4 linked regions of the Homo sapiens genome follow. The protein of the gene in region 1 purifies or fractionates together with the protein of each later gene. This does not show direct contact. Each region holds a gene or a part of one and is shown on either strand. Other genes may lie near its edges.

Region 1 (3,500 bases):
ATTATGTTAAGTGAAATAAGCCAGGCACAGAAAGACAACTATAGCATATTTTCACTCATTATGTGGGAGCTTAAAAAACAAAACAAAACAAAACTGATCTCATGGAGACAGAGAGAAGAATGATGGTTACCAGAGGCTGGGAAGGGTACTGGGGAAGGGGGATATAAAGAGGGTTTGATTAATGGGTACAAAAATACCTTCAGATAAAAGGAATAAGACCTAGTGCTTGGAAGCACAACAGGACAACTATAGTTAACAATAATTTATTGTGTATTTCAAAATAACTAGAAAAGCAGAACTGGTATGTACCTAATACAAAGAAATTATAAATGCTTGAAGTGATGGATGTCCCAATTATCCTGATTTGATCATTACACATTGTACATTTGTATCTGAATATCACATGGACCCCTATAAATGTACTATTATGTACACATAATAAAATTTTTTAAAAAAACTAAGAATTTGCTAATAATATTTAATTTGTTGGCTTGTCTGAAATATCCTAGAAGGAGCAAGGAAATGAAGAGAGCCTCTATACTCATAAAATTTGTATTAGATTCATAGACTATACAAGGAATTATTAGGTCCATAAACTCAACAATGAAGCACATGAAAGAGGGAAAAGTATATGAAACAGGCAGTCCTTCACATGAAGGTAATCTATGTTGTTGAATACTCACTGTGGCATTCTTAATTTTTTCAAGCTGCCAAAATACCATCTGCAATAGATAATACCACCCACATCATTCAAAATCCTTCCCTGCCCTGACAGCCTTGGGCGTCCCATTGGGATCTCTGCCGAGCCAGCTGCCCAATCCCTGAGAGTTTCTACCTAGTCAGCCAATTTCTTCTTCAGGTACCAGGATGTGGGTGTTCAGATATATTGTGCATTTAAAAAAATAAGAAGGTTTTGGTGAGCTAGTCTGAAAAACCAATATTTCAAATATCATCTCTGTGACAAAGAGTCTGAAACTCTAAATCATCAACTTATATTTGAATTTCTGGAACTCATCCAATTCAGGAGCTTATCTATATAAATATATCCAGTCTGAAGAAAACAAGCCCCACTATTCTTGTGTTATAACTATGAATGTTTATAGACAGTTAACATTCACTTAACAAATAAATTTCAAAATTTCAGATCTAGCTACTTTGGAAAAGGCTGCAAAAGTGTAAGTTAAATGAACAGTATGCTGAAAAAAATGTTCTTGTTTGAGCACTAACACAATTCAGAGGCCCAATGTATCTGATGTATCTCTCTATGGAATCAACATGTAGGAATTCAAATATAAAATTGTGAGGAATCCAGTTGACTAAAAAGATTCAGTTTTAGAGATTCTCTGGCTTTACCTTGTTCTACTTTATAATAATCCTAGATGGTTTGCTTATGAGGTATTAAAGGAGCCAATTTCCATTTGGACTCATCACCTGTGACAGACATTTTGGGGGGGGTCTGACTTTAAAACCAGGTGGCATTAGAATTCCCCTTGCCTATGATAGGAAAGTACATTATTAACCTGCCACCTCTCTGTAACCCTCCAAATCAGTCCAGGCAAAGCTCCTTTCTCCTTCACTTACTCATAACTGGCCACTGTCCAAGAGCTAGTTTTAAAACCTCAAAAACTATACACGGTTTTTATTAAGAAGCTGTATTTGCTTCTTGCTGTGAATGTTTATACAATTAATACATACTTTGAATTTTTTATCTCTACAAAATAAAAAATAAAAGCCAGGCATGGTGGCATGCACCTGTAGTCCTAGCTACTTAGGAGGCTGAGGTAGGAGGATCACTTGTGCCCAGGAGTTTGAGGCTGTCGTGTGCCATGACTGTGCCTATAGATAGCCACTGAGCTCCAGCCCGGGCAACACAGCAAGATCCTGACTCTAAAAACAAAAATATATATATTTTTATTTTTTAAAGCTTTCAGTCAGCAACTTTAAGAATGCCTACAAGTTTATTTACTTATTGCATGAAATTTATTAATTTCTAGATTGAAATACTGTTAAATATTTAAAATTCGAAATATTTGGTTGTTATAGTATCCCCAAGCAGAAGGTTATATATTAGTTCTTAAGACACCAAACAAGTGATCTAGCAGAACAGTTTAATGACTTAGGCATAGTTAAATCAGGAAATTAAGAACTGTCAAATATCCAAACCTGACCAAAAACAAGCAATGGGGAAAGGATTCCCTATTCAATAAATGGTGCTGGGATAACTAGCTAGCCATATGCAGAAGATTGAAACTGGACCCCTACCCCACGCCAACCTCCTTAAACCACATACAAAAATTAAGTCCAGATGAATTAAAGACTTAAATGTAAAATCCAAAACTATAAAAACCCTGGAAGACAACTTATGCAATACCATTATAGACATAAGAACAGGCAAAGATTTCATGACAAAGGCACCAAAAGCAATTGCAACAAAACCAAAAATTGACAAATGGGATCTAATTAAACTAAAGAGCTTCTGCACAGCAAAGGAAACTATCAACAAAGTGAACAGACAACCTACAGAATGGGAGAAAATTTTTGCAAACGAAGCATCTGACAAAGGTTTAATATCCAGCATATATAAGGAACTTAAACAAATTTACAAGAAAAAAGCAAACAACCCCATGAAAAAATGTGCAAAGGAGATGAACACTTTTCAAAAGAAGACATAAATGTGGCCAAGAATCATATGAAAAAAAGCTCAACATCACTGATCATTAGAGAAATGCAAATCAAAACCACAAGGAGATACCATTTCAAGCGTCAGAATGCGTATTATTAAAAAGTCAAAAAAAAATACATGTTGGAGAGGCTGCAGAGAAAAAGGAACACTTAACACACTGTTGGTGGGAGTGTAAATTAGTTCAACCATTGTGGAAGACAGTATGGCAATTCCTCAAAGACCTAAAAACAGAAATACCATTTGACCCATCAATCCCACTACTGGGTATACACCTAAAGGAATATAAATCCTTGTGTTATAAGACACATGCATGCATATGTTCACTGCAGCACTGTTCACAAGAGCAAAGACATGGAATCAACCTAAATGCCCATCAAATGATAGACTGGATAAAGAAAATGTGGGTCCATATATACCGTGTGAATACTACACAGCCATAAAAAAGAAGATCATGTCCTCTGTGGAAACATGGATGGAGCTGGAGGCCATTATCCTCAGCAAACTCACACAGGAACAGAAAAGCAAATTCCGCACGTTCTCACTTGTAAGTGGGAGCTAAATGATGAGAGCACATGGACACAAAGAGGGGAACAATACACATTGGAGCCTACCAGAGGGTGGAGAGTAGGAGGAAGGAGAGGATCAGAAAAAATAACTAATGAGTACTAGGCTTAATACCTGAGTAACAAAATATCTGTAGAACAAACCCCCATGACACAAGTTTACCTATATAACAAACCTGCACATGTACCCCTCAACTTAAAAGTTAAAAAAATTGTTAAATATCACAATACACAAGAAGACTGTATTCTAGATA
Region 2 (2,166 bases), on another chromosome or scaffold:
GCGGCCTGAGTAGTCATACGGGGGGCCTTCAGCCCCCTCCAGGATCCAAGTTCTGATCGCTTTGAATGCTCCTTTATGTGACAGCCACCAAGCCAACCTCTGATGCTGCTGACACTCTCCTCCATTGCTTTCAGAGTCACCTGGTGGTTCTGCGCCTTCCCCTACAGCCTCCTCATCTTCATCTATGATGAGGTCCGAAAGCTCATCCTGCGGCGGTATCCTGGTGGTAAGCCCCTCCACATTCCCCCCAGCAAAGTGCAAGCCCCACCACCAGCTCCTCCCTCCAGGACCACACGCAGACTCCACTCCCACTACTGGTTCCTGCTTCTGTTCCTCAACACCCTCAGATCCTGGGGTCCCAGGTCCCAGGAGCCCTGACTCTTTCGAACCTGTTGTCTCTGCCCTCTTCCCATCAGATTCTAAACCCCGCCTAACTCACAGTTGGTCTCCGAGGCCCTCCACCTTCCACCTGAAACCACAGAACATCAGAATTAGAAGGGCCTTTCCAGGTCACCTAGTCCCACGTCCATATTTTACAGATAGAGGAGGCTCAGAGGTGAATCTGTTCAGGGTCGTAAAGCAAAGAATAGCAGGACTGGTACTAGAACCCAGGCCTCCTGATCCCCACTCATCAACCGACAAGTTATTGTTTTTCCTACAAGCGTTTTTTAATCACTTAGTAGAGGTTAAAATATGATGGCTTACAAACCAAATACTGTCCAGGAATACTGTTTGGTTTGACCTGTGCCATATTTTGTGTGTGTGGGGGGAGGAGGGTGGATTAATTGGTCCGATATAGAAAATTTAGGGTCTTTCACATAAAATCTGAATTCGACTTCTCCTGAAGATCAGAAGAGCTGTTAATCCCATGTCCACATCTCTGCACAGCAAGAATGGACAGCTGCTCCCTTAGACTCTCGTTCGTCACCTGAAGAGGCCCTGTGGGCGTTTGCATTTTCACCCTCGACCTATTCTGCCCCAGCCTCCAATGTGCTAAATACAAGTCTCCCCTAAAGGCAGGTTCACCCTCCCTTCCTTTAACCTATGGCCCCAGCTCACTGGACCTCCTTCTCCTCCCTTTCACCTTCTTTTTTTTTTTTTTTTTTTTTTTTTTTTTGAGACGGAGTCTCGCTCTGTCGCCCAACCAGGAGTGCAGTGCAGTGGCACGATCTCGGCTCACTGCAAGCTCCGCCTCCTGGGTTCAAGCAATTCTCTTGCCTCAGCCTCCAGAGTAGCTGGGATTGCAGGCGCATGCCACTATGCCCGACTAATTTTTTGTATTTTTAGTACAGACAGGGTTTCACTGGGTTAGCCAGGAGTCTTGATCTCCGCCTGCCTCAGCCTCCCAGTATGCTGGGATTACAGGCATGAGCCACTGCACCCAGCCTCCTTCCACCTTCCTAAGCCACTTCCCCCAGTGCCCTTCACCAGGCTTCTCCTTCCACCTGGCTTCAGCGACCCAAGCCCCTAGGAAATTGATCTCTTGCCTCCTTTTAAGCTCATGCTGCAATCTCCACTCCCAATCTCTCTAACAGGCTGGGTGGAGAAGGAGACATACTACTGACCCCATTGGAAGAAGAACCAGGCATGGAAAGATGGGGAGCTCTGGAGGTGTTGTGGGGATGGTGATGGAGAGGGATGGAAATAACGGGTGGCATTGGGTGGCAACATTTGGGGAGAGATAATGAGGCAACTCAGCAGGCTAAGTTGCGGGGTATATAAATTGGGGTGATGACCCCATAGACCTAACTGTGAACAATCAGATTAGACACTATGTGTTAGAGTCCCCCCGACCAGATCCTTTTCCATCCCACTCCACTATGTTGTCTATTTTTTCTGAGGAATTAAGGGTTACCCCACCCTGCCCACTCCCATCCCTTCAACCCCACTTCCTACTGTAATAGATCAGCATCCAAAAGCAGGAACCCATCTAAACCAGAAGGAAGCCCTCTCAGATCACCCCAGCCTCACTCCATTTCCCACTTCCACCCCCGTTAGCTTCCTGCAGGACTCTATCCCTGGCTTCCCCTTCAGACCTTGCAATCACAAAAGGTTCTTCTGGTGAGTGCAAGAGCCTGAGACTGGAAAAGGTGGACTTGTCTCCCAGTCGAGGCTGGTAAGGGACCTTCAGGGAGAGCTGGGCAGACAGGTGGGAGATGGAGGTAG
Region 3 (3,500 bases), on another chromosome or scaffold:
CAATGGCGCGATCTCGGCTCACCACAACCTCTGCCTCCTGGGTTCAAGCGGTTCTCCTGCCTCAGCCTCCCGAGCAGCTGGAATTACAGGCATGTGACACCACACCAAGCTAATTTTGTATTTTTAGGAGAGATGGGGTTTCTCCATGTTGGTCAGGCTGGTCTCGACCTCCCAACCTCAGGTGATCCACCCGCCTCGGCTTCCCAAAGTGCTGGGATTACAGGTGTGAGCCACCATGCCCAGCAAGTCTGCCAGTTTTAATGGTGAGGCTTACAAAAGTGGCTCAACCAAAGCTGTAAAAAAAAATTACTGGAAAAATAACCAGCCTAAGTGTTGTCGTGAGGACGAAATGAGCTCGTGTGTAAAGGGCCTAGAACGGTGCCCGGTCCATGCTAAGTGCTCTGTTGGCCATTATGATTCCCACATCACACATGGAGGGAGTACAGTCCGGGGGAAGGACTTGTCTGACGAAGCCTGACAACACACTGCCCACTCCACATGCTCCGGTCCTGGCCCCAACGCCACCCCAGTTCCTAAGGCTGTGACCCTCTCCTGCCTTGTCCATAAATGGGGATACACAACTCCCAAGGTTCAGGTGAAATGAAGAGCTCAACACTCAAATGATCCCAGTGCTGTGGGTCAGGCATGACCTGCAGGACAGGGGCAGGCCTGGGGAATTTGCAGATGTATCTCGAGTACTTTCCGCCAGCTCCCTCCAACTGTGGAAAGTAGGAAGAGAGAGCTCAGAAAACTCCTCAACCATCCTTTCTCGAATTATCCAAACCTGGCCCCTCTGCACACACACTGCTGTGACTTCATGGAACCCTCGAGAGCGGCCCCAACAGCCAAGGACCAGAAGCCAGTCTAGGCCTGGTGGGGGCACCTCTCAGTGACCCTGCATGACCATGGGGACAGAGGCAGACCTGCAAGGCCAAGCCAGTGGCAGGAGGGCAACAGCAATGTTCCCCAGAGGCTGCTGAGGCTCTGAAGGACACAGGCCTTACACACAGCACTCCTCTGCACAATCTCTCTGCATACCTGCCTGCAAGACTGTCCACGCCAGAATGGACTACTGCCCAAAGAAGCCATCCTTACTGTGACCACATCAGCATTACCTTCCTCCTCCTCCTCCTCCTCAGCCCTGTCACCGATGACACCTACCACTGTCAGAGCCAGAGTGAAGCAGAAACACCACTGGCCTGGGAGATGGAAGACATGGATTCTGTTCTCAGCTCTGCTGTGCCCTAACCGTGGAACCTGAGGCCAGCCCCTTACCCACGCCTGCCCCAGCCTCATCAAAGGTGACCTCTGAGGCCCCACTGTCCACCAGGCACACACAGGGAGACTGGCCTCAGGTGCAGTTGGCCTCAGGAAAGCCCCAGCTCTGGAGCCTCCCAACCTCCCAGTCCCGAGATGAGTGACATGGCCAACTGCCCCACCCCAAGTCTGGAGAGGCCGGTGGGAGAAGCCTGTGACCCTCCCTGGCCCGCCCACCTCCACACCCTCGCACCTTCCACACGGGCCTCATCAGGGGTGATGGTGGCACACTTGACAGCCACACTGTACTTCTGGGTGGCCAGTGCAGAGTCAATGGTGACCTGGTCATCAGTCTGGTCACGGTTTGGGAGCCCGAGGTCAAAATACTTTAGCTGGATGTCCACGTGGGGCAGGATGAGCTGGGGACAGAGGGCCAGAGCAAGGCGTCACCCCAGTGACTCAGGGACATGACAACAAAGGGCAGGATAAGAAGTCTGCAGGCCATGGCAGGGGACAGTCAGTCAAAACAGGGATGAGTGAAGGCCAGTGGAGGGGCGCAGCAGAAAGCTGGAGTCAGCCATTTCTCAGTGGGGCCTGGCCAGAGCTGGCAGAGGCTGGGGCTTTGGAGAGAGGTTGGCAGGCCAGGCCGCAGTCTTTTGGAGGGTTCTTCCTCCACTGTGCCTGTGTGCCCCCCTCACATGGCCCATCAACTCAGCCAAACCCCAACCCCAAGTACATCTAGATTTCTCTATACAACTGGTTTCCTCTTCTCAAGTGCTTTGAGATCTTACAGTTGGAAGTGACAGTTCTCAACCTTTGTCCCATGAACGCACACACAGTGTGGGGCCTTCACAAGGACTACATGCTCTCCTGGACATACATAGACCACGGCAACTTTGGAGAAGCCAAGCGGCCACTCTGGGACCCCTTTGCCATGGTGGCTCGTCACAACTGCAGGCTGGGTCACTGCCCTACACACCAGCCCTGTTCCCTTTTCACTCCTTTTCAAGAAGTGAGGCAAAACGTAGGGGATCAAGATGGAAATGATACAGGATTAACCTTGAAGCTTCTCAAAGTTGACAGAACGTGTGGGATCTGGCACCATCACAACACGGACTGCTGGGGACAGGCCCCCGCCTGACGACTTCTGAACAATTAGTGGACCAGATGTGAAAGAAGGGTAGACAGAGGGAGAGAAACAGAGCTGCTGCTGCCTACCAGGACAACGGGGGGGTCCTAGGGACCTGCAGTCCAGAAGACCCTGTGGGACAGAACAATCCCTGGCCAGCCCACCTGGAGAGCCACCCACTTCAGGAGGGGGCACTACCTTCTCCTTGATGAACTGCCAGATAATACGGGTCATCTCATCACCATCCATCTCCACCACGGGCTTCGCCACCTTGATCCTTTTGTCGGCATCTAGAAGCAGGGACACACAGCGCATCATGCCCCTGGGGAGGCTGGAGGGGGGCCCTCTCCTCCCAGCCAGGCCCGCCCTTCACCAGGAGACAGTGGCAGAAAGCCAGGGCTCCAGCTGCCCGGTGTCCACTCCCCCGTCTGCAAATCAGCTCCCTCACTGCTTAGAGCAGGGGTCCCCAACTCCCAGGCCATGGACTAGTACCGTGGGCTCTGGAGAGAGGTCAGCAGACCAGGCCACAGCCTTTAGTGCAGGTCCACGGACTGTTGGGAACTGGGCCACACAGCAGGAGGAGAGCTGCAGGTGAGTGAGCACTACTACCACCTGAGCTCATGCCTGGGAACTGCGCACACGAGGGATCTAGGTTGCATACTCCTTATGAGAATCTAATGCCTGATGATCTGTCACTGTCTTCCAGCACCTCCAGATGGGACTGTCTAGTTGCAGGAAAGCAAGCTCAGGACCCCCCGATTGTACATTATGGTGAGCTATATAATTTTTTCATTATATATTACAATGTAATAATAATAGAAATAAAGTGCACAATAAATGTAATGCACTTGACTCATCCCAAAACCATCCCCGCTGCCCACCACCCTGCCACCCGTGGAAAAATTGTCTTCCATGAAACTGGCCCCTGGTGCCAAAAACTTTGGGAACTGCTGGTTTAGAGCACCTGGATCCATCCATCCTTACTTACTTCCTTTCCTTTCTTTCCTTCCTTTCCTTTCTTTCCTTCCTTCCTTCCTTTCGTTCCTTCCTCCCTTTCTCTCTCTCTTTCTTGGCAGGGTCCTGTTCCATTGGTCAGGCTGGAATGCACTGATGC
Region 4 (3,500 bases), on another chromosome or scaffold:
ACACACTGCTGGCTGACCGGCAGGACAGCAGCAGTATAGGGTAGAGGTTCAGATTAGGTAGGAGGACAGTAGGGCCAGAGCTTGCATGGGTTGGGGAAAGCACATCCCAGGGGCCCTCTCTGCTACTCACAAGAAGGCCTCCTTCCTGCGGGACTCCTTCAGTGGCTCGTCCTCTTCGGCATCATGGCTGGAAGGTGTATGGGGTTCCGCTCTGGGGAAGAGAGAGAGAAAGTTAGGGCCAGGCTCAGGGAGGTGAATGGGGCTGAGAAGGACCAGACTGGTAGCCTCACCTCCTGTAAGTGTCAGAAGCGGCAGCGTAGTGGAGGGGAGAGCAGCCTTTACAGTCGGCCTCGTTGACACCTGCCCCAGCAGTCACCAATGTTACTGCACACTGGTAGCTACCGTTAGCAGCTGCATAGTGCAGTGGGGTCCTGGGGAAGAAGTGAAGGAGGGTGGGGAAGAGAATCAGAGACAGATACGAATGCAATCAGATGTGCAGCCAAATGCTGCTTTGTAACATTCTCCTTATTTAAGTCTCCAATCTAAACCCTTCCTCCCTCTACCATTTGTTTCTCTAATCAGATATTCCCTATGTTTACCCCTGCATATTAGCATACCTGCCAAATTTGTCCCTCCTCCTCAAGTCAGCTCCACTGCTCAACAGCAAATTAAGACATTCAACATTCCTAAAAGAAAGATGTGTTAAGAGAGTTACAGCCTCAAAGGGAAGCCACAGGCCCAGGGTGGGGCTAAGGAAGGATGGGACTAGCAAGCCCTTTCTGCTGTGACTGCTTTCATTGTGAGAGGGGGAATAGATCTGGGCAGGCAAGAATGAGGGGCCCAGACCTTTGCCCAGCTCCCTGCTCAAAGCATGGGAGAGAGAAAGAGAACTCACCCTCCGGAAGCAGCAGCATGAAGACAGGTACGGCCAAGGTTGTCAGGTGTATTGATGTCAAACCCAGCTGAAAGCACATGCTCATTGCTGAGTGAAGACACAATGCTGTACAACTGACCTGGAGGCACAGAACAGCCACAGGTCACATCTGAGAGTGTTCAGCAGGGAGGGAAAGGCCTTTGCTCTCCTATACACCTGCCAATCCCCAGCCCATCAGCACATACCTGAGGAAAGAAGCTTACGACAACAGTCAGAGAATCCAAAGAGAACAGCTAAGTGCAGGGGGAACATGTCATGGATGCCACGCCTAGAGAGAAGTTGAGGGACTCAGTCCTTGGGTCAAGGAGGGACCAAGTAAGACCTCTTCTGTGACCTACCACCACCCTAGAGTCAGGGTAGGAGGTTCTCCAAGGTGCCCTTTGGCAAGCTTATCTGTGCCTCCATGGTTGATGTGAGCAGTCTGTGCAGATCTGGGCAGCCCAGAAGTGGAGTCGGGGCCCTGACTCACCGGGCGGTATCTGCGCCATTGGTCATGAGGGTGCTGATGAGCAGCTCGTGTCCATATCGAGCAGCCACATGCAGTGGCGTGTTCCCAAATTTGTCGGCACAATCAATCTCGCTGCCTGTGAGGGGATGCACACACACAAGCTCAGGCAGACCTCAGGCTTAAGACCACTTTCGCGAGCTAGCCATGATTTGAGTGCCTACTATGTATGCATCAGGTGCCAGGCCCAGGATTCTACATATTTTATCCTGTTTCTAGGCCTTAGGAGACTGGGCAGGGCAGAGCAGGGCCATTTCCACAGGTCCCTTGGTCAGAGTTCCAAGGGCCTATCCTACTGGAAGAGGGCAGGAGAAGGAAGTTAGGAACCTCCCTAGATTCTAGAAATGAGTTCCTTGGGGGAGGAGGGGATGAGAGCACAAAGTCTCCCAGGTCCATACCATTCTGGATGAGGATCTGGGAGCGTGTGAAACGGCCATGGATTGCAGCCATGTGCAGAGGACTTTTCCCTTCTTTGCTCTGTGGAAACATGGTGGGTTTTTGTTTTTGTTTTTTTTTCCAGTGCAAAGCACAGAGAATGCCCTACCTCCCTTCCAAGGACATATCTCTAAGGACAAAAGGGTCATATGGCACCTTCTTAGCCCACTCTTTCCTGAGTCCCTGGCAAGGTCTGATTACCCTAGGAAGCAAGTGGATAATTCCCCAAGAGAGCTATCCAGATACAGTCAGGACCCCTAGATCCAAGTTTCGCTCCCCACTGGTCTAAGCCTTATCCCTTCAGGCACCTGGTAGTTGACGTCAGCCCCATTATTAACCAGTAGCTCCAAGCAGAGAGCGCCATTGGTGGAGACTGCAGCCACATGCAGTGGCGTGAAGCCCTTGTCATTCGGCTGGTTGACATTGGCTCCGGCATTCACCAGCTCAATAGCCACAGCATCCTGGCCCAGGTAGCAGGCGATGTGCAAAGCTGTGTTTCCAAAAGCATTGGGTTCATCGATCTGGATATTCAGGGGTGAGAGTAAGGTGGTATCAGTTTAAACAAAGTAGAAGCCAGCACATGTAGCCTCCAGATCCCAGAAATCCAACGACTGCCTCATTTCCTCTCGGGTTTATGACCCAAGGTACTAAGGTACTAAGGGCACTATGGCTAAGGTAAGCATTATTCAGACCCTCTCTACCACGTCCTTCCAACTTCCCAAAACTATACCAACATCCCAATACCTCATATCTCCGTAACAGACTATAATCTCCTACTTGCTGCCCATAGTTCCCAACCCCAGAGCTCAAAGCCCTGACCTCCGCTCCCATCCGAAGCAGGTACTTCACCACTTCAATCTGGCCACTGGCAGCAGCTGTATGGAGCAGCCCATAGCCCTTGCGGTCCTTGCAGCCGAGGTCTGCTCCCCGTGCCACCAGCAGTTTTAGGACCTCCAAGTGCCCTGAGAAAAGAGAAGACACTCTAAAGGAAGTAGAAGGTAAACTCTAAGACCCTACACTCCTCTCTTCAAAGGCTGCAACCCCACATCCCTGCCCTAGGAATCCTAAATGTCAAATTTCTGATTTTCCCGTGTATTCTCTCTCACCTAGAAAAGCTGCCCAATGCAGAGGCTGCCGCTCCTTTTTGTCACAGACATTCAGGCTGGCTCCCTTGTTGAGGAGCAGGTTCACCGTCTGCATCAGGATATGAAAGACACCTGTTCAGAGCTAGATTCGTGCCCTCAACCTACCTAAGAGCAGAGGCCTCATCTCCTGAAAAGGCTGAGGCAGCCTAATGCCTTTTTCCATGAGCAAAACAACCTGGAGGACTCGAGGGAACAGCAGAAGCAGGCACTAAGGAGGAGATACTGGAGAGATTTGGAACTTTAAGGGAAACAAGAGAGTCTCTTCAGGTGATCTGGTGGTTCTTAAACTCTTTTTTTTTTTTTTTTTGAGACAGTCTCGCTCTGTTACCCAGGCTGGAGTTCAGTGGCATGATTTCGGCTCATTGCAAGCTCCGCCTCCCGGGTTCACGCCATTCTCCTGCCTCAGTCTCCCGAGTAGCTGGGACTACAGGCGGCCGCCACCACACCCGGCTAATTTTTTGTATTTTTAGTAGAGACAGGG

The links. The genes of interacting proteins can lie anywhere in the genome.
Region 2: the proteins of ZNRF2 (region 1) and ATP1A2 purify together in Homo sapiens (affinity purification with western blotting; one study listed by BioGRID). This does not show direct contact.
Region 3: the proteins of ZNRF2 (region 1) and IDH2 purify together in Homo sapiens (affinity purification with mass spectrometry, with the first as the bait; one large-scale study listed by BioGRID). This does not show direct contact.
Region 4: the proteins of ZNRF2 (region 1) and ANKRD52 purify together in Homo sapiens (affinity purification with mass spectrometry; one large-scale study listed by BioGRID and IntAct). This does not show direct contact.

Annotation. Positions count from the first base shown.
Region 1 is NC_000007.14:30,326,097-30,329,596, reverse strand, and holds part of ZNRF2 (E3 ubiquitin-protein ligase ZNRF2), read right to left. Parts: intron 1-3,500. UniProt on the Homo sapiens protein: E3 ubiquitin-protein ligase that plays a role in the establishment and maintenance of neuronal transmission and plasticity. Ubiquitinates the Na(+)/K(+) ATPase alpha-1 subunit/ATP1A1 and thereby influences its endocytosis and/or degradation.
Region 2 is NC_000001.11:160,139,759-160,141,924, forward strand, and holds part of ATP1A2 (sodium/potassium-transporting ATPase subunit alpha-2 precursor), read left to right. Parts: intron 1-134; coding exon 135-226; intron 227-1,535; coding exon 1,536-1,564; 3' UTR 1,565-2,166. UniProt on the Homo sapiens protein: This is the catalytic component of the active enzyme, which catalyzes the hydrolysis of ATP coupled with the exchange of sodium and potassium ions across the plasma membrane.
Region 3 is NC_000015.10:90,088,969-90,092,468, forward strand, and holds part of IDH2 (isocitrate dehydrogenase [NADP], mitochondrial isoform 1 precursor), read right to left. Parts: intron 2,677-3,500; coding exon 2,585-2,676; intron 1,677-2,584; coding exon 1,511-1,676; intron 1-1,510. UniProt on the Homo sapiens protein: Plays a role in intermediary metabolism and energy production. It may tightly associate or interact with the pyruvate dehydrogenase complex.
Region 4 is NC_000012.12:56,251,885-56,255,384, forward strand, and holds part of ANKRD52 (serine/threonine-protein phosphatase 6 regulatory ankyrin repeat subunit C), read right to left. Parts: intron 3,069-3,500; coding exon 2,981-3,068; intron 2,837-2,980; coding exon 2,694-2,836; intron 2,396-2,693; coding exon 2,183-2,395; intron 1,917-2,182; coding exon 1,838-1,916; intron 1,519-1,837; coding exon 1,404-1,518; intron 1,203-1,403; coding exon 1,120-1,202; intron 1,014-1,119; coding exon 896-1,013; intron 687-895; coding exon 618-686; intron 432-617; coding exon 291-431; intron 212-290; coding exon 131-211; intron 1-130. UniProt on the Homo sapiens protein: Putative regulatory subunit of protein phosphatase 6 (PP6) that may be involved in the recognition of phosphoprotein substrates.